Linked DNA regions of Homo sapiens. The protein of the gene in region 1 purifies or fractionates together with the protein of each later gene. This does not show direct contact. Each region holds a gene or a part of one and is shown in the gene's direction. Other genes may lie near its edges.

What was found.
Region 2: the proteins of CRIP1 (region 1) and HNRNPA3 fractionate together in Homo sapiens (co-fractionation; one large-scale study listed by BioGRID). This does not show direct contact.
Region 3: the proteins of CRIP1 (region 1) and PPP2R5E purify together in Homo sapiens (affinity purification with mass spectrometry; 2 studies listed by BioGRID and IntAct, with this or other methods). This does not show direct contact.
Region 4: the proteins of CRIP1 (region 1) and MSI2 fractionate together in Homo sapiens (co-fractionation; one large-scale study listed by BioGRID). This does not show direct contact.

What each region holds. Positions count from the first base shown.
Region 1 is NC_000014.9:105,484,617-105,490,060, forward strand, and holds CRIP1 (cysteine-rich protein 1), read left to right. Parts: upstream 1-2,269; 5' UTR 2,270-2,356; intron 2,357-2,582; 5' UTR 2,583-2,643; coding exon 2,644-2,683; intron 2,684-3,549; coding exon 3,550-3,644; intron 3,645-3,714; coding exon 3,715-3,772; intron 3,773-3,854; coding exon 3,855-3,895; 3' UTR 3,896-3,900; intron 3,901-4,046; 3' UTR 4,047-4,331; downstream 4,332-5,444. UniProt on the Homo sapiens protein: Seems to have a role in zinc absorption and may function as an intracellular zinc transport protein.
Region 2 is NC_000002.12:177,215,020-177,219,293, forward strand, and holds part of HNRNPA3 (heterogeneous nuclear ribonucleoprotein A3), read left to right. Parts: intron 1-519; coding exon 520-642; intron 643-730; coding exon 731-877; intron 878-958; coding exon 959-1,169; intron 1,170-1,483; coding exon 1,484-1,573; intron 1,574-1,656; coding exon 1,657-1,752; intron 1,753-1,840; coding exon 1,841-1,921; intron 1,922-2,685; coding exon 2,686-2,826; intron 2,827-4,017; coding exon 4,018-4,140; intron 4,141-4,227; coding exon 4,228-4,274. UniProt on the Homo sapiens protein: Plays a role in cytoplasmic trafficking of RNA. Binds to the cis-acting response element, A2RE. May be involved in pre-mRNA splicing.
Region 3 is NC_000014.9:63,533,378-63,537,651, reverse strand, and holds part of PPP2R5E (serine/threonine-protein phosphatase 2A 56 kDa regulatory subunit epsilon isoform), read left to right. Parts: intron 1-4,274. UniProt on the Homo sapiens protein: The B regulatory subunit might modulate substrate selectivity and catalytic activity, and might also direct the localization of the catalytic enzyme to a particular subcellular compartment.
Region 4 is NC_000017.11:57,612,249-57,616,522, forward strand, and holds part of MSI2 (RNA-binding protein Musashi homolog 2), read left to right. Parts: intron 1-3,721; coding exon 3,722-3,836; intron 3,837-4,274.

The sequences.
Region 1 (5,444 bases):
GTGTGTATGTGACTGTGTGTGTGTCTCTGTGTTATGTCTGTGTCAGTGAGGGTGTGCGTGTGTATCTGTGCATGTGTCTGTGTGTATCTGTGAGTGTGGGTGTCTGAGTTGAGTGGAAAAACTGCTGTGAGCCAACACAGAAGGCGTGGCCCCACGGCGAGGGCATCCTGCCCCCCACCCCACCCGTGACCATGGTGACAGGAAGCAACAGCAGGGAAGGCCAGGAATGGACTCATCACCCTGGTTTTCAAGGAGGGGCTCCTCCATGGGCAGGGTGGGTTGGAGTCCAGAGTGTGGGGGAAGGGACCATCCCTGGGGGCGGGTAGAGGGGAGGACAAGGACTGGGTCATTGTCCCTATCTGCCCTGGCTAATGTCCGTACATGAGCTGCAAGGTACCGGGCCAGGAGCTGGGATGGGCTGGGGAGGAGGCTTGACAGAAATATGGGCGGACAACTGCGAGAGGGACCACACACATGCTCGCGGGGACCCCAGAGACCCCTGATGGACACACCCATACGGGTATGTCCACGGGCACCAGGCACACACGTGTGCATCAGGCACTTGCCCTGCACCTCTGCACCCGGAGCACGTCATCCTGGTGGGGGTGTGGACAGCGGTGCTGGGCACCCTGGGGCTTGGGGGCAGCGCACGCCCCAGGGAAAGTGCAGTGACAGAGCCCCCGGCCTCCCCAATACTGTCCGGGCTCCCCTGGCCTCTCCCCCTTCTTGGTGCCTCTGCCTCTCCCTCTGCTTGTCTGCAGGTTTGTCCCACGATGCCCCACACTCAGTGGAGATGGCAGGTGGGCCCAGACCTCAGAGTGGGTTTCAAGGCTCATGGGCTGGAGAGTGGGGGTTCCAAGTTTGCAGGACAGGAGCGCACCCCTACTCTGGAAACCTTATCTCTGAGGTCTCAGAATGGGGGATGAGGAGGGCTCCAATGGGCCCCTGTGGAATGTCCTATCAGACCCCAGGACTTAGCCCCAGTCGGGGGACAGAACTGTGGCCTTAGAGGGGCGCCAGGAGGAGGGCAAGCAGGATGTGGCCTTGGGCTGGGTGTGCTGGTGTGGGGCTCTCTGGAGTGTGGCCTCTGTGCCAGACGCCTGTGCCTTGGCCGTCCTACAGCCCTGCTGCCCCTGCCCTCTCCCCAAGCTGGGGACTGGTGGCAGACAGGGCAGGGCAGGCGGCTTCTCTTCCTCTAAGTGCAGGCCTCGAGGTGCCGACAGGGGTGCGGTAGGATTCAGGGAAAGTGAGGTTGGGATCACAGGTGCAGTTAGGGCTCAGGGCCCGACAGCGGTAGGCCAGCGGCTCCTGGGGCCCAGGAGGATGGTCTCCAGCGCCCCCAGCGGGGACAGGGCCAGCACAGGCCCAGTGGAGATCGAGGGGAGATAAGGACGCTGGTTAACATGGCTGACAGGAGGGATGGTGGGTGGGGAGGAAGGGCAGCACCGCCCTTGTGCTGTGGGAGCTCCCAGGGAGCTCCATGCAGCATGGAGGTGAAGGGCCTGCAGAGAGAGGGCTCCCCTGCTCAGTGACAGGAGAGGGGGCTGACAGTGACCTGGGCTCCCTTCCTGAGGCTGGCCAGTCAGCTAGAGGGCTGACCCCAAAGCCCGAGGCCAGCGCAGCCCCCTTGGCCCTCCTGAATCTGGGGGGCGGGTGAGGCGGGACAGACTCCGCCTGGCACCGGGACCATCCTCCGCCTCAACTTTGCAGCGTACTTGGACCGCTCTGGCCGCCCTGGGCGCTACCCGCAGAGATAAGGGCCCCTCCCTGCGCCCGGTCCGGGCATCTCCGAGCCGGCCTGGGGGTGGCTGAACTCTCTTTTGCCGGCCGAAACCCCAGCCCCCGCAGCCCCCGCAGCCGATCGGTCCTCAAGCTACAGCTCCCCTCTCTGGGAGTCCCCGCTTTTGAATTCCCCGGGGATGTTCCCGCTGCGGTCCGATGGACCTCCCAGAGCAGCGGAGGTCAGGGGAGCTAGCAGAGGCGGGGACGTCCCTTGGGAGTGAGGGGACTGACAGGGGCGGCCTCGTAACCCTGCGTGGGATGGAAGGTCAGAGTGGGTTCCTCGGTGGGGGGCAACAGCGGGGGCTCTCCGGCAATTGTCCCCGACCCTCCGTCCTGGGGAGGGCAGGATCAGCGCGCGGGCTGCTTTGCATCTCTTTGCATTTTAGTGATGTTTGGTCCAGTCCTGGCCCGGGCAGATCTGGGGTTCGGGCGGGTGCCGGTGGGGTAGGGCTGGGGGTGGGAGCGGCGTTTCCTGCTGCGGGTGAGCCTTTTGCCTCGGAACTGGACCCGGGAGACATCACAGCGCTGGGCTAGGGGCGCGGCTTGAACTCGCCTAAAGAGCTGCGCCCTCTCAGTAAGTCCCCATGGCCCCCTGCCCCCCCGCGCTCCGTCCTCAGTCAGGCCCGGGTCCTGCCTGAAGGCGGGGGTGGACCAGATGATCTTTCTTGGGCCCTGGGCCTAGATTCGAGGTCCCCAGGGTCCAAGTCCTGGGTTCAGAGGGCGGGGCGCGAGGGGCGGGGTCTCCAAGGGGCGGGGTCCCGGGGTCCCTGAAAGGCGCGGACCAGGCCGGATCCACCCAGTCTCGCGCCTGCAGCCCGTGCCGCCCCAGCCGCTGCCGCCTGCACCGGACCCGGAGCCGTCATGCCCAAGTGTCCCAAGTGCAACAAGGAGGTGTACTTCGGTGAGCGCGCCCACACCGGCCCCGCGAGGAGGCGCCGCCGACGGGGCGACGAGGCTGGGGACCGCTCAGGAGGACCGGGGGCGCTGGGTCCCTGGGGCGGCGCCCCAGCCTGAAAACGCCTCAGCCTGGCCCGCCGCCTGCCCCGGGATGAGGGTGGAGGCCCCTGCGTCCGAGGGCCCTGGCGATCTCTGCCTGCTAGTGGTCTTGCTGTGCTCGGCGGGCTACCTCTGGCTCTGAGCCTCCCCGTCTCTGGGTCCTACGGTCTCTGCCGTTTCCTCTCAGGCGCGCCCTGAGTGGGGGACCCGCAGGGCTGGAAGGAACGCGGGGCTGGGGCCGCGCCCCCCAGCGCTAAGTGGAAACAGACGCGGAAACCGACGCCCGGGGCGCGATCCCGGGCGCCCGCCTCCCTGCCCCGCGCCCGCGCGCCCCGAGGGGAGGGAGGAAGTGGGAAGTCACCCCTGTCCCCGCCGAGAAGGGCTGTCGCAGGCTCCACCCTTGCCACCGCAGAGGCCCGGGGCTGAAAGCAGGCAGCCAGGCCCAGGCCCTGCTGACCTAAGCCGCGACCCCTGACCCTCGGCCTCGCCCTCTAGCCCCACCCAGCCTTCAGGAGCAAGATTCCCGGCCGCACCCGAAAGTGCCCCGGGGACCAGCGACCCCGCGCTTTGTTTAGTTGTATTGGCTCTGGGGATTGGAGATGTTCCCCTCATGGAGGGTGCTGAGACCTTAGGGTGGGCTGCCAGGCTGGGCGGATGCGGGCTAAGTGCACAGGGCCTTGGGCAGAGCTGGCTGCAAGAGGCGGGTACGCCAGTGGTGGGTAGGCGCCGCGTCCTGCAGCGTCTCACCGGGGCCTGTCTGTGCCTCTGCAGCCGAGAGGGTGACCTCTCTGGGCAAGGACTGGCATCGGCCCTGCCTGAAGTGCGAGAAATGTGGGAAGACGCTGACCTCTGGGGGCCACGCTGAGGTAGGTGGGACCCACCCTGGTGGCAGGGGCCAGGGGTGATGGCACCCCCTCACGGCCCTTCTCTTTGCAGCACGAAGGCAAACCCTACTGCAACCACCCCTGCTACGCAGCCATGTTTGGGCCTAAAGGTATGCTCCCGTCATCCCCACCCCACCCCACCCCACAGCCTCCTCCACCCCAGCCTGTTGACTTTTTCCACCTTCTCTGCAGGCTTTGGGCGGGGCGGAGCCGAGAGCCACACTTTCAAGTAAACCAGGTAGGTAGGACCCCACCCCCTATCCTGCCTCCTGGTTCCACCCTCGGGATGGGGATGCCCCCTCCCAGGGAGGCCTGACCACTCGTGGGCCCCAAAGGAGGCCGTGGACGCTGCACTCACGTCTGTGCCTGTCTCTCTCTGCACAGGTGGTGGAGACCCCATCCTTGGCTGCTTGCAGGGCCACTGTCCAGGCAAATGCCAGGCCTTGTCCCCAGATGCCCAGGGCTCCCTTGTTGCCCCTAATGCTCTCAGTAAACCTGAACACTTGGAAAACCTGTGTGTGTACATGCGCGTGTGTGCTGGGGAGTGCCAAGGGAGCTGCAGTGGGGTCCTGGCAGCAGGCTCTGCCACCGGCGCCTGCTCTTCTGCTGCCCATTGCCCTCCCCAGGGGGCCGTTCCAGGGTCTCATAGGCGAGGGCTCCCTGTGCAGGGTGAGTCCAGGCCACCCTAGACAGCCCGCACCCAGCCCTGGCACTCTGAGTCCGCCTCGACAACTCCCAGATCCTCAGAAGTGCCTCTGAGCCCTCCTGGCCTTCTGGGAGTGGGGAAGGGGGGCTTTGCAGGCCACCAGCCAAAGGCTCAGCAGGCCGAGAGGCCTGGGGGCGGGCGAGGCTGGCCTCGGGTCAGAGGGTGAATCAGCTCATGCTGGCTCCCTTTCTGAGAGGCTCTGGGGGAGTTATGGGAACTCCTGGCCTTCCTCCTTTCCACCCCCCAACCCTGTCCTCATTCCCCACCCCTCCAGGCCAGGCCCAGCTTCTGCAAGGGCCTGATGAGGCTGCTCTGCCCCTGACCCAGGCACCACTGCCCCATGTGCGTCCTCATCTGCCATCTACCCTGTGCCCAGGGACTTACCCAGTGGCCCGGCGTCCAGTGGGGAACTTGAGTACCGGCCGTGCACAGGGGCTGGGGGGCCTTCTGGAAACTCCCTTGTCAACTCAGCCAGCCGCTGCTGACTGGCCACCTTCAGAGACCCTCTTCCCCACACTGGCTACTTAGATACCGGCCTTGGCAGAAGGCCACCCCTCCGGACACCCACTGGTTTAAAAGAGCCCAGGGGTCTGGCCCTGCCTTAGGGCTGTGGTGGGTGTGCTGCAGGCTCAGCTCGACAGGTGCTGTGGGGGCAGTCTAGGGTGGCCCGCAGGGTGGGGTGTGTGGGGGTGATTGGGGGATTCCTGGAATTCCAAGAGCTGGGAGCCACAGCACTTTTGATGGGATGGGGGCAGGGGGTGCTGAGGTGAGGCTGGTTTCTGGCTGGACGGTGGTGGGTGGAGCTGAGGGAACTGAGATCTTTGAGACAGCGACACCTGGTGCAGAGAAAAATCCGCAAGCTCGGGGGTTGGGAGAGCGCTGAACAAGGCCGCAGAGCTGCTCCGCCATCTCCCCCACGCCTCCTGCCAAGTTCTGTGGCGCCGCGGTTCCCCACCTCCTGCTCCCATCCCCCTGGCTCCCGCCGCCCTGTAGCTCGGCAGGTGCAGTAGGCGCTCCGAGGAGGAGGCCCCTTAGCTTCAAGAAACCCGCGTGGGCGGGGTGAGGAGCGCAGTCCT
Region 2 (4,274 bases), on another chromosome or scaffold:
GCATTTGAAAGGCTGGTTATAGGTTTCCTTGACATAAGTTAGCCCCTTTAACAGTTGAAGTCTTATTTCTGGTCAAAGTTTTTGTTGTTTTGTTTTTTTGAGACGGAGTTTTCGCTCCTATGGCCCAGGCTGGAGTGTAATGACATGATCTTGGCTCACCGCAACCTCCGCCTCCTGGGTTTAAGCGATTTTCCTTTCTCGAGTAGCTGGGATTACAGACGCCCGCCACCACGCCCAGCTAATTTTTGTGTTTTTAGTAGAGATGGGGTTTCGCCGTGTTGGCCAGGCTGGTCTCGAACTCCTGACCTCAGGTAATCCATCTGCCTCGGCCTCCCAAAGTGTTGGGATTACAGGCATGAGACATCGCGCCGGTGTCTGGTCAAAGTTTTAACTGGACAAAGTGTTAACTGTCACAGGAATTTGATGTTGATTTTATTACTTACCGTACATTAAAGGCTCTTCGTGCATCTTAATTCATCTACTGTAAGGTAACTTAAGAGTATTGGTTCTTTCTCTCAGGGCCATGATCCAAAGGAACCAGAGCAGTTGAGAAAACTGTTTATTGGTGGTCTGAGCTTTGAAACTACAGATGATAGTTTACGAGAACATTTTGAGAAATGGGGCACACTCACAGATTGTGTGGTAAGTTACTAAGAGAACAGAAGGGTTCTAAGGGGTGTAGAGAACCGGTGGAGGTGTTTTCAACGTTATAAAACTTTTTATTTTGTAGGTAATGAGAGACCCCCAAACAAAACGTTCCAGGGGCTTTGGTTTTGTGACTTATTCTTGTGTTGAAGAGGTGGATGCAGCAATGTGTGCTCGACCACACAAGGTTGATGGGCGTGTAGTGGAACCAAAGAGAGCTGTTTCTAGAGAGGTATTTTAATAATACATTGTGTAATATGTGAAATTGTTGTGAAAGTTTGTTTCTTGACTTAATATATTACTTTATTTGTAGGATTCTGTAAAGCCTGGTGCCCATCTAACAGTGAAGAAAATTTTTGTTGGTGGTATTAAAGAAGATACAGAAGAATATAATTTGAGAGACTACTTTGAAAAGTATGGCAAGATTGAAACCATAGAAGTTATGGAAGACAGGCAGAGTGGAAAAAAGAGAGGATTTGCTTTTGTAACTTTTGATGATCATGATACAGTTGATAAAATTGTTGGTAAGTAGCAATTTATGGTAACTTGAATGAGAAAGTAGAACTGGTTTTTCTGTTTTGAACTAAATTTGCTAAATTGTAATTTTCTGTTGCGTGTAATGGCATTTATAGTGTATAGTCAATTTTCATAGTGTCTGCCTGTGTAATCAGTATCCAGATCAAGAAATAAACATAAACATCTCAGAATGCTCCTTCATTACCAGAGTCACTACCTGATTATGTCTTAATGGGTTACATAATGACAGAGGGTATCTCATATATGTGCTTTTCCAAACATAAAATAACTTTTTGTTTTGTTTGATTGAAAAAAAATTTAGTTCAGAAATACCACACTATTAATGGGCATAATTGTGAAGTGAAAAAGGCCCTTTCTAAACAAGAGATGCAGTCTGCTGGATCACAGAGAGGTGAGTAGGACCATACACATGTATACAGTGGATATGAGTGGTGTTTGTAAGGTTCTTAAAAATCTCCCTTGCCTGTATTAAAGGTCGTGGAGGTGGATCTGGCAATTTTATGGGTCGCGGAGGGAACTTTGGAGGTGGTGGAGGTAATTTTGGCCGTGGTGGAAACTTTGGTGGAAGAGGTAGGCTGTTTATCTTCTAAGTACATGGATACCTGACATTTTGGTAAGTTGAATATATTATTTTAATTCATTTCTTGTTTTTCCTCAGGAGGCTATGGTGGTGGAGGTGGTGGCAGCAGAGGTAGTTATGGAGGAGGTGATGGTGGATATAATGGATTTGGAGGTGATGGTAGGTGGCTTATTTTCATTGATGTTTGATATTTTAACTTTCTTTACTTATTGAAAATTATTTATTACACTTTTCTAATTTTAGTTAAAACTTCAGTGGCTAAATGGTTAAGGTGTATTTCCAAACTGTACATGGAAGAACAGGAACCCTTTTTCCCCTGGAGAGACATTAGCTGCTCTTTTTCAGCAAGTAGTAGGGGTTGAGCTAGAATTGTTCTATTAAGTCTGAGACTATATTTTTCTTAGTGAAATTTTGTAAAATGAAAACTGATTTTCTTTTTTACTATCAGAAGATGGGTTACACATTTATTTTTCATTCTTACTAGTGCAGATACTTGATACTCTATTATTATTAGGTATTACCAGGCTTCAGAGTGCTAAATCAATTCATTGGCTTATTTGCCAGTGGCTTAAATGTAATATAAAACCAGAGTTGAGTAATTCTAGCTATTCAGGAGGCTGAGGCAGAGGGGTTGCTTGAGGTGAGGATTTTGAGACTAGTCTGAGCAACATAAGGAGACCGTATATCTAGAAAAATAAAATAGGGGAACATGGTGGCACATGCCCATAGTCTAGCTACTCAGGAGACTGAGGTGGGAGAATGGCTTGAGCCCAGGAGTTCAAGGCTGCATTGCTGTGGTTGCACCACTGTACTTGAGCCCGGGCAACAGAGCAAGACCCAGTCTCTTACACACACACCAGAATTGAATAACGTGACTATACACTTAAGTTTTTGTGTGGTCTTGTTATTTGTTGTTTTTTTAGGTGGCAACTATGGCGGTGGTCCTGGTTATAGTAGTAGAGGGGGCTATGGTGGTGGTGGACCAGGATATGGAAACCAAGGTGGTGGATATGGTGGAGGTGGAGGATATGATGGTTACAATGAAGGAGGAAATTTTGGCGGTGGTAAGCATTCACTTGTTTTATTTAAATGTTAAATATTCAGTGTTGCTAACAGTTCCCATGACACATATTTGGAAAGTGTTAAAAGCGTTTGATCAAATTTTATGTTCTATAAGAAAAATACTAAAATGGTTGGTAGTTCAAACCAAATTTTCTTGACTTTGCTGGTTATTTAGTAAAATGTACAAATGTACTCAGCTCTCTTTTTTCTTTTTTTTTTTTTTTTTTTTTTTTTTTGAGATGGAGTCTTGCTCTGTTGCCCAGGCTGGAGTGCAGTGGCGTGATCTCAGCTCATTGCAATCTCCGCCTCCCGGGTTCATGCGATTCTCCTGCCTCAGCCTCCCTAGTAGCTGGGACTACAGGCGTATGCCAGCACGCCCGGTTAATTTTTTTGCATTTTTAGTAGAGATGGGGTTTCACCATGTTAGCCAGGATGGTCTCGATCTCCTGACCTTGTGATCTGCCCGCTTCTGCCTCCCAAAGTACTGGGATTACAGGCATGAGCCACTGCACTCAGCCAAATGTACTGAATTTTTAGTTGAGTAGTAAAAAATGGACATTTACCAGTATTCAGTACATGTTTTACGTGTAAAAGATTGGGAGTTTATTTATTGCCAAAATTTTACTTAACTCCTTGGTACTTTTAAACTGGACAACCGGGAATAAATTGTTTGAATACTCCAGACGTGTTGAAGTGAGCAGGTTGCCATCTAGGGCCCAGGTTAACAAAGTACTTTGGGTCTTAATATAATATGTCACAGGTAGTTGAAGCGTTTAAGCAAGCTAGTGTATGTAGGTCATTAAGCCACAATACTGTTAAAAGCTTTCTTAGGAATGCACTGTTTTATTGGACCTAATTAACATGTCAATGACAGATGAGTGGAAGTTTTAACAAGTTAGAATGCCTTCTCATTGTTTTAAATGTTATACTGCTTCAGAATCATAGTGAATGGAACACTGGCAATTTTAATGGTGTTAATGGTAGAGAGAACATGCGCCTAGAGGACAGCATTTAATATAAACAAAATGTTGATGGTCTTTTAATATCCTGACATCAGTTACCCCAAGTGGTGCTACCACAGTGATGTGTATAAGCATGCTACCATAATTCTCAAAAGATAATAGTTACATACGTTAAAAGGGGAAAATGATGATTGTGTAGGTAAACCACACATAAAACCTTTCTGATTTCAGGTAACTATGGTGGTGGTGGGAACTATAATGATTTTGGAAATTATAGTGGACAACAGCAATCAAATTATGGACCCATGAAAGGGGGCAGTTTTGGTGGAAGAAGCTCGGGCAGTCCCTATGGTGGTAAGTACTTTCTTAAATCAATTCTTTAGAGCCTTTTTAATTTAAAAAATGTGCATACTTCTTTTAAAATACTATGTATATTTTCAGGTGGTTATGGATCTGGTGGTGGAAGTGGTGGATATGGTAGCAGAAGG
Region 3 (4,274 bases), about 42 Mb from region 1:
CCTCAAAATTTAGCTTAGGATATTTCAAGCTTCTATTTTTTCCATATGAATACTTTTTTTAAAAAAGAGAGAGAGATTCATAAATAAGATTCCAATGTTTATACAAAATTTTTGGAAACTGAATACTGATTACTGTAAAGATGATATATCTACCAGTCAGTAAAGATGAGCTCCTGTGAGCTTTGGGGGAGAAAATTTTGACTAGAGATTTTGCTGGTAAAAATGAAAATAGTCATTATGAGGCTTTGGAAAGAAAATGTAGGAAACACTGTAGATTGAACTATGCTTGAAATACAAAGTTGGGAGACACTGGTTTTTAGTAATCTATTTAATCTGAAGTAGATATGTAATGGGTGTTAACTTCTGTATCTGTAAAGGACTTCATTCTGAGGAAGCCAGTTAAATTTTTTTTTTTAGAATTAGAAGGAATTTAAAAACTTACACTAATTTCTTGGATCTTATGGTAAACAATTAAATTAGGACTTCACTGACCACTCATAGTCAGGGTATTGGTTTTGTGGGTAGTGAAAGAAGCATGCATGAGAAGAATTTGGACACATGCTTTAATGTATTTTTTCTTTAATGCTTTCATGTCTTTTTTCTCATTTTAAAAAATTATGGTAAAATATACATAACATGAAATTTACCATCTTAACCATGTTTAAATGTGCATTAAGTGCCTTGACATTGTCATGCAACTGTCCCTACCATCCATCTCCAGAACCTTTTCATCTTCCCCAACTGAAGCTCTGTACCTGTTAAACACTGACTCCCTGTTTCCCCCACCAGCCCTTGGCAACCGCCATTCTGTTTTTTGTTTCTATGAATTTGACTACTCTAGGTACCTCCTATAAGTGATGCCATGCAATATTTGTCTTTTTGTGACTGGCTTATTTCACTTAGTCAAGTGTCTTCAGTGTTCATCTCTGTTGTAGCAGGTGTCAGAATTTCATTCTTTTTTAAGGCTGAATAATTTCAGTGTATATACATACCATATACTTTTTAATCCATTAATTCATTGGTGGACACTTGGGTTGCTTCCACCTTCAGGCTATTGTGAATAATGCTGCTGTGACCATGATGTACAGATACCTGTTTAAGTTCTGGCTTTCATTTCTTTTGGGTATGTACCCAGACGTGTAATTGCTGGATCATATGTTGAATTTTTCAGGAATTGCCATACATATTGCCACAGCAACTGGACCATTTTTCATTCCCATTAGCAATGCATGAGGGTTCCAGTTTTCTATATCCTCACCATCACTCATTTTCTGCTTTTTAATTTTTTGATAGTAGTCATTATAATAGGTATGAAGTGGTATTTCAGTGTGATTTTTATTTGCATTGCCCTAATGATTAGTGATGTTGAGCATCTTTTCCTGTGCTTTTTGGCCATTTCTGTATCCTTTTTCTCACTTTTAAAAGTGAAGTCTGCTAGTGTTGCCAGTTTTCCAAGAACTCTGCTTTCCAAGAATGTGATTTTTTGAACTTGTATATTTTGCCAGTATGAGAGAATTGGAGAGTAACAGGACTATATACTCACAAACCTAATTCCAGAGTGACTAACAGTGATTGTTATGTAGTAAGCACATTCTGGGTAAATACTCTGGAAAGTATTCTATAAATTAGAAATCCATCTCTGTCTGTAGAATAACATAAGGAAGTATAATCAGAAATAGACTTCAGTAATGTGTATTTGCTCTTGATTTTCTAGGAAGTAATTTATGGAATATAAAGAAAATGTAGGAGGAATTTCTTTTCTAGGATTTTATTTTTTTTGGCCATTGCCTTAAGAGAAACCAGGATAAACACTATATGCATGCTAAGGGTAGTTATTGATTTAATTTTCTATAGTATTGCTTTGACTAAATTGGGTTAATTTTATTTGGAGTACAATATAAAATATGGTTGAATTTTGTGAGTTGTTTTAAATAATGAAGTCAAAGAGGTGTCCTTAAGGTCTTTAATTTCAGGGGAGTTTGAATACGATAATTATACAAACAGTGATTATGTAACTCATCTTTTAATATGTCATTTTTGAATGCTCAGATATGCATTAATAACCACTCGTTTTGTGCATGCATTATCAGAATGTTTATTATATGCATCATAATCTTTGATTTATAAATAATACTGCATTAATTCTTAGCGTTTTAAAGTCTGTTCACTTGCAAAACTGCAACATAATGTGAAGGGAAAGTTTTTGTTTTGCCCTATTTCTTTTTTTTTTGAGATGGAGTTTTGCTCTTGTTGCCCAGGCTGGAGTACAGTGGTGCGATCTCAGCTCACTGCAACCTCTGCCTCTTGGTTCAAGTGATTCTCTTGCCTCAGGCTCCTGAGTAGCTGGGATTGCAGGTGCCCACCACCACACCAAGCTAATTTTTTTGTATTTTTAGTAGAGACGTGTTGAGACCAGCCAGGCTGGTCTCAAACTCCTGACCTCAGGTGATCCACCTGCCTTGGCCTCCCAAAGTGCTGGGATTACAGGCGTCAGTCACTGCGCCCAGCCTATTTTGCCCTATGTCTAATAGGTGGGGTTTTGAAATCTGTATCACTGATGTTATTTCCTGTAGAAAGCAACACCACCTGTAATTCTGTATAAATCTACCTGGTTTTTCCGTATCTGTGTGTTAGGAAATTATAGGATGAACTTTGCAAAGATAGACATTTACATTTTCTCCATCTTTATATGCTTTTGTGAAAGTGTTCTTGGAGAGCCTTAACATTTTTGAGGCTGGGTATGGTGGCTCACACCTATAATCCCAGCACATAGGGAGACAGAGTTGGGAGGCTCGCTTAAGCCCAAGAGTTTGAGACCAGCCTACGCAACATAGTGAGACCTCATCTGTACAAATAATTTAAAAAATTAGCCAGGGTGGTGGTGTACACCTGTGGTCCCAGCTACTTGGGAGGCTGAGGCAGAAGGATTGCCCGAGCCCAGGAGGCTGAGGCTGCAGTGAGCTGTGATTGTTCCACTGTGTCCAGTGTGGCTGACAGAGTGAGACCTTTGTCTCAAAATAAAAACATTTTTTTCTTTGAGTCTAAAAGATTCTTACTCATTCACTGATAGGGAAAACCTAGTAGAGGTTTAGTGCCTTACTTACTTGATAAGAAAGTAAAATCTTGGGGGAGGCCGACAGGGGGCGGGTCATTTGAGGTCAAGAGTTTGAGACCAGCCTGGCCAACAGGGTAAAACCCCATCTCTGCTAAAAATCCAAAAATTCGTGGATGTAGTGGTGTGCATCTATAATCCCAGCTACTCAGGAGGCTGAGGCAGGAGAATCACTTGACCCCGGGAGGTGGAGGTTGCAGTGAGCTCATATTGTGCCACTATAAACTCTGTCTTAAAAAAAAAAAGAAAGTCAAGACTTGGATACTTTCCTTACACTTACACAGCAGGACATGAAGCAAGCCTTGACTGTTATCTAGGTAAGTTGTTGAGTAAGACAGTCAAACTAAACAGTTAGGCAAACACACAAACACACACACAAATTTATGTTAATAATAATCAGTGGTAGTAGCACCTGGCTGGGTGATTTATGTTCTCTCCTCACCCCAGCCTCCTGTGCCTCATTTCCTTGCGTTGACTTTAAGCAATTCTGTAAGTTTAGATTTGGGTGAACGTTTTCTGAAGAATACTGCCTCTTTGAAGATGGAATTATAGTGAAAGTAGCATTGTTATTTCTTTTGTTTGTTTGTTTTTCTGAGACAGAGTCTCGCTCTGTCACCCAGGCTGGAGTGCAGTGGCGCAATCTCGGCTCACTGCAACCTCTGCCTCCCAGGTTCAAGTGATTCTCCTGCCTCAGCCTGCGGAGAGTAGCTGGGATTACAGGTGTCTGCCACCACATCCGGCTGATTTTTATATTTTTAGTAGAGACGGGGTTTCTCCATGTTGGCCAGGCTGGTCTCGAACTCCTGACCACAGGTGCGTCCGCCTGCCTAGGCCTCCCAAAGTGCTGGGATTCTTGGCATGAGCCACCGCGCCCGGCCGCCATTGTTATTTCTTGTCTCACAATTCATTATACATTTCCGAGGCATTTTGCAGATAGTTTGTACATTCACTTTTAGATATTCTTACAACTATGATGACTAGACGGAGTTTAGCTCTTGTTGCCCAGGCTGGAGTGTAATGGTGCGATCTCGGCTCACCACAGCCTCTGCCTTCCGGGTTCAAGCCATTTTCCTGCCTCAGCCTCCCAAGTAGCTGGGATTACAGGCATGCGCCTCCATGCCCGGCTAATTTTGTATTTTTAGTAGAGATGGGGTTTCTCCAT
Region 4 (4,274 bases), on another chromosome or scaffold:
TTTCAATACAATGAGAGCTCTCAGAGAGGTGGAGGCTTTCCTTATTTATCTTTGGGTCCCCAAAGCCTAGCACTTGCCTGGCGTGTTGAGTTCCTCCGCATCTGCGTCATTGAATTAAGTGGCTGAGTCTCGGGGGTGGAGGGGACTGGACAGGCTTCCTGGTCCTGAGAAGTCTTTCAAGAGGCCTTCAGGGCAGGCAGGCCAGGTTCCCTGCTGTTAACTGTTACCTGCTGCCTTCCCCTGTCATTCAGATGCCCAGGACAGGCCAGGGTCCCCTGGAGAGTGTATGCGCCATGGCCCCTGGCCTTGGGGAACACTCACCGTTGACCCAGCAGGTGGTTGGCACTCAGACAGTCATTGCTGCCCAAACCACCAGCAGCAAAGACAGAGCAGAATTAAACAGAGCTGTCAGCCCTGTTCAGTGAGAGGAAGAGTAGGTGGGTTTGTTTAAAACACTCCCATTACAGTCAGTTAACCTTTATGTTCCCTAAATGAAAATTGTATAAACCTGAGATTTCCGTTGATCGGGTTGCCTAGGAACAGGCAGCAGGTTTTCATAAGACAATGCAGTAGATTGTCACCGATAGGGCTATTAGGAAGTGAGCTGGTTAGCGGTATTATTCCCCTTGCTGGTGTTGGCTTTGGGTAATTATCTGTCTGCCTGTGCGAGACACGCCCATCTTCCTAGGCTTGGGGCAGGTTCATGCAAATGAGATTTCTCAGCCTGCTCCTCTGGAGTCCTGAAGCCAGTTTTCACCCCTGGGCTTAGGAGAGAAACCTAAAAGAGCCAATTTGGATGAGTTTGTTGTTTTCAATCACCTTTCCCCCCTACCTGCAATGACAATATTCTAATAGCCCTATCAGTGACAGTCTATTGCATTATCTTACAAAAACCTGCTCCCTGTTGCTTAGCAGAAAGCTTAGAAAATAACTAGCAAAATGCCCAATTAAAATTTAAAAACAGAGTGATTCTAAGACAACTTTAGTATGTCTTTTCAGTATTTTTCCCTATATGATATATGCACTTGTTTATTTTTCAAAAAGTCAGTGACATTTGCTGTTTTCCCGCTTGCAGTTAAAGAAACCCATCATCCTGGTTTGCCTGGGACTGAGGGGTTTCCCAGTACCAGTGCATGATTATTATCAACACACTTTTTCATAGCTGCATAGCATTCAATCAGTGTGGATAATCCAAACTCAGCTAATTCCCTGTTCTTCTATATTTTAGGTATTTCCTTTTATTAAAAAAAAAAATTCTAATTCCGGTAGGGCAAATTCCTAGAGGTAAGATTACTAGGTGTATGTATAAATTTATGGCTTTTGATGTAGTGTCTGGTTGCCCTCCAGAAAAATACGTGCCAATTTCCACCCCTCCACACTATACCGTCAGAAACCCTTACATCAAACAATGCTTTCATCACTGTCAATCTGTGGGCAAAAAATATGCTTCATCTTGGGGAATGTGTTCTTTATTAGCCGTCTGTGAATTGTCTACTCCTGTCTTTTACCCATGTCTGTTTTGGGATGCTCATCTCTTTTAATCTATAGAACTCTGTATTAAGCATATTAGTCATGAATGTTGAACCATTTTGTCCACTTTTTAAGGCATTTGTGGTTATTCTTGAAAGAGCAAGAGTAATACCTGTTGTCCGGTGTCTTTGAAGAAAGGTGACTTATATCTTAGGTAATTATAGCATCCCCCTAACCTTGAGCACTAAAATATTTTTTGATTGAAGTATTTGGGATGTGAGTATCTCCAAAATGGATAACCCATAGAGGTTCCTTTTTTATTTTCGTTTTATTTATTTTTTTTATTTTTTGAGATAGAGTCTCGCTCTGTCGCCCAGGCTGGAGTACAGTGGTGCGATCTCGGCTCACTACACCCTCCACCTCCCGGGTTCAAGCGATTCTTCTGCCTTAGCCTCCCAAGTAGCTGGGATTACAGGAGCATGCCACCACACCTGGCTAATTTTTTTGTATTTTTAGTAGAGACAGGGTTTTGCCACGATAGCCAGGCTGGTCTCGAACTCCTGGACTCAAGCAGTCTGCCTGCCTTAGCCTCCCAAAGTGTTGGGATTACAGGTGTGAGCCACCACGTCCGGCCTAGAGGTCTCTGTTTAAACAATGTATATTGCACACAGTTTAACTTTTTCTTGCTATCTCAGGCACACCTGTGAACAATAGCAATTTTCTGTGTTACAGTGATACCTCAGCAGCTGTTGAACTATGTAGAGCTTTTGTTCCTATACCATATGGCCCAGACTGCTCTTTAAATAAGATACCTGTTTCTTGTCTTTTCTCCGTCATTTAAATAAGATACCTGTTTCTTGTCTTTTCTCCGTCACTATCAGGCGGCCATGCTGTTTCTTTTGGCTGTTAAAAGCATCCGTGCCTTACCCTGCAACATCCCATCTTCATCAGCAGTGGGATTGATGACTGGCTAACAATGCTTGTTAAATTTCTCTGTAAACAAAAAGCAAATAAGTGCTAATAAGCACAGGCCTAAGGCGCTCTGGTAAAACAGTGAAGGAGCTTCCGAGGGCCACAGTTTTACTTATTCCCTGAGGTTTATAGTTCGCATAGTTAAGGTTATTAAATAAGTGACCTCTGGGTATACAAGCAGATTAGCATGAAGAAATTTGAGAGTCAGAAGGGAAACAGAAAGGGGAGATTAGCAACCACTTGAAAATGTAGCTGCAAATGAGAAACTAGTAATCCAGATGAACAGAATCAGTGTTTAATCTTATTACTTCCCTCAGGAGTGTGGTGGTGGTGTAGGTTTTGTGGAAATGTGGCATTGCTGACCTAGAAATTCTAAAGATCTGGTTTGTAGGCCTGAACCTGTTGGGGAGGGCTTTCAGCATGTTGCACAAGAATTTTTTTTTTTTTTTTTTTTTAAGACAGGGTCTCGCTGTGTCACCCAGGCTGGAGTGCAGTGGCGTGATCATGGCTCACTGCAGCCTTGACCTCCCAGACTCAGGTGATCCCCCTACCTCAGCCTCCCAGGTAGCTGGGACTACAGGTGTGTGCCACCACACCTGCCTAGTTTTTTGTATTTTTTTAGTACAGACGGGGTTTCACCATGTTGCCAGGCTGATCTGAAACGCCTGGGCTCAAGCTGATTCACCTGCCTCCACCTCCCACAGTGCTGGGATTACAAACATGATCCCCCACGCCCAGCCAACACAAAACTTCTGATGCTCTGTTTTCTCATCTGTGAACTGGAGCTAAGGCTAAGTGGTCTGTCTGTTTAATAAGAGTTTGAATCAGATGGCCTGGCATGAAGAGTCACTGGCCTGAGAGAATGTCAGGGGCATTTGTAAATGTGTAAAGGGCTGAAAAATCCTGAGGGATTATTATTATTGCTATTGTTGTTATTATTCACAGACACATCCAACAGCCATTGTCTGCCTCCTTATCTGTCATGCTTTCTGCACGAGCGTCAGCCTGAGCTTCAATCTGTGTGTATATCTGCAGCTTACGTCCTTGCCACCCCTCCAGAACCCAGTTTCATCCTTGTAGGTTTTTCCGAAGCAGGATTTGCACAAGTGGCGTGTTTTCTTAAGTATTTATTTTGCAGGCCATTTACTCGGCATGGCTATTTTTACAGTGGGTAAGGAGCAAGGCTAAAAATAACTTAGCTCATAACCAGACAGGTTCTGCATTTGACATTTACGTGGAATTCATTTGCATCTCATTTGTTCGCCTTTCTGTTTAACAGGTAGAATGTAAGAAAGCTCAGCCGAAAGAAGTCATGTTCCCACCTGGGACAAGAGGCCGGGCCCGGGGACTGCCTTACACCATGGACGCGTTCATGCTTGGCATGGGGATGCTGGGTGAGTCTGGACAGGACCGCAGGTCACCATGGACTGGGAGGGCTATGGAGGCCTCTACTCCCAACTGGGTCACCTACCAGTGGGGCAAACTGCTTCACCTTTCTAAGCCTCAGTTTCCTTGTCTGTAGATGAGGATGATAATTCCCCGTTCCAAGACAGTTGTGATGATTAAGTGTGGGTGTGTGTGTGTGCATGCATGTGTGTGTGTGTGTGTGTGTGTTTGTATTTATAATATTGCCCCATGCCTGGCTTATAGGATATGTTAGACTATTTTCTCTCTTTTCCATCTCCTTCCTCAAAAGAAGGAAAAGTCCCCCTCTATCTGCCTCAGCCCTCTCATCTGAGTGGGAGTTCTTAAGATGTAAGGACTCCTGGCTGACTTGACTTGTGTGGGCTAAGGCTACGTTTTCTAAAACTTGGGAGAGGAGGGAAGTGGTA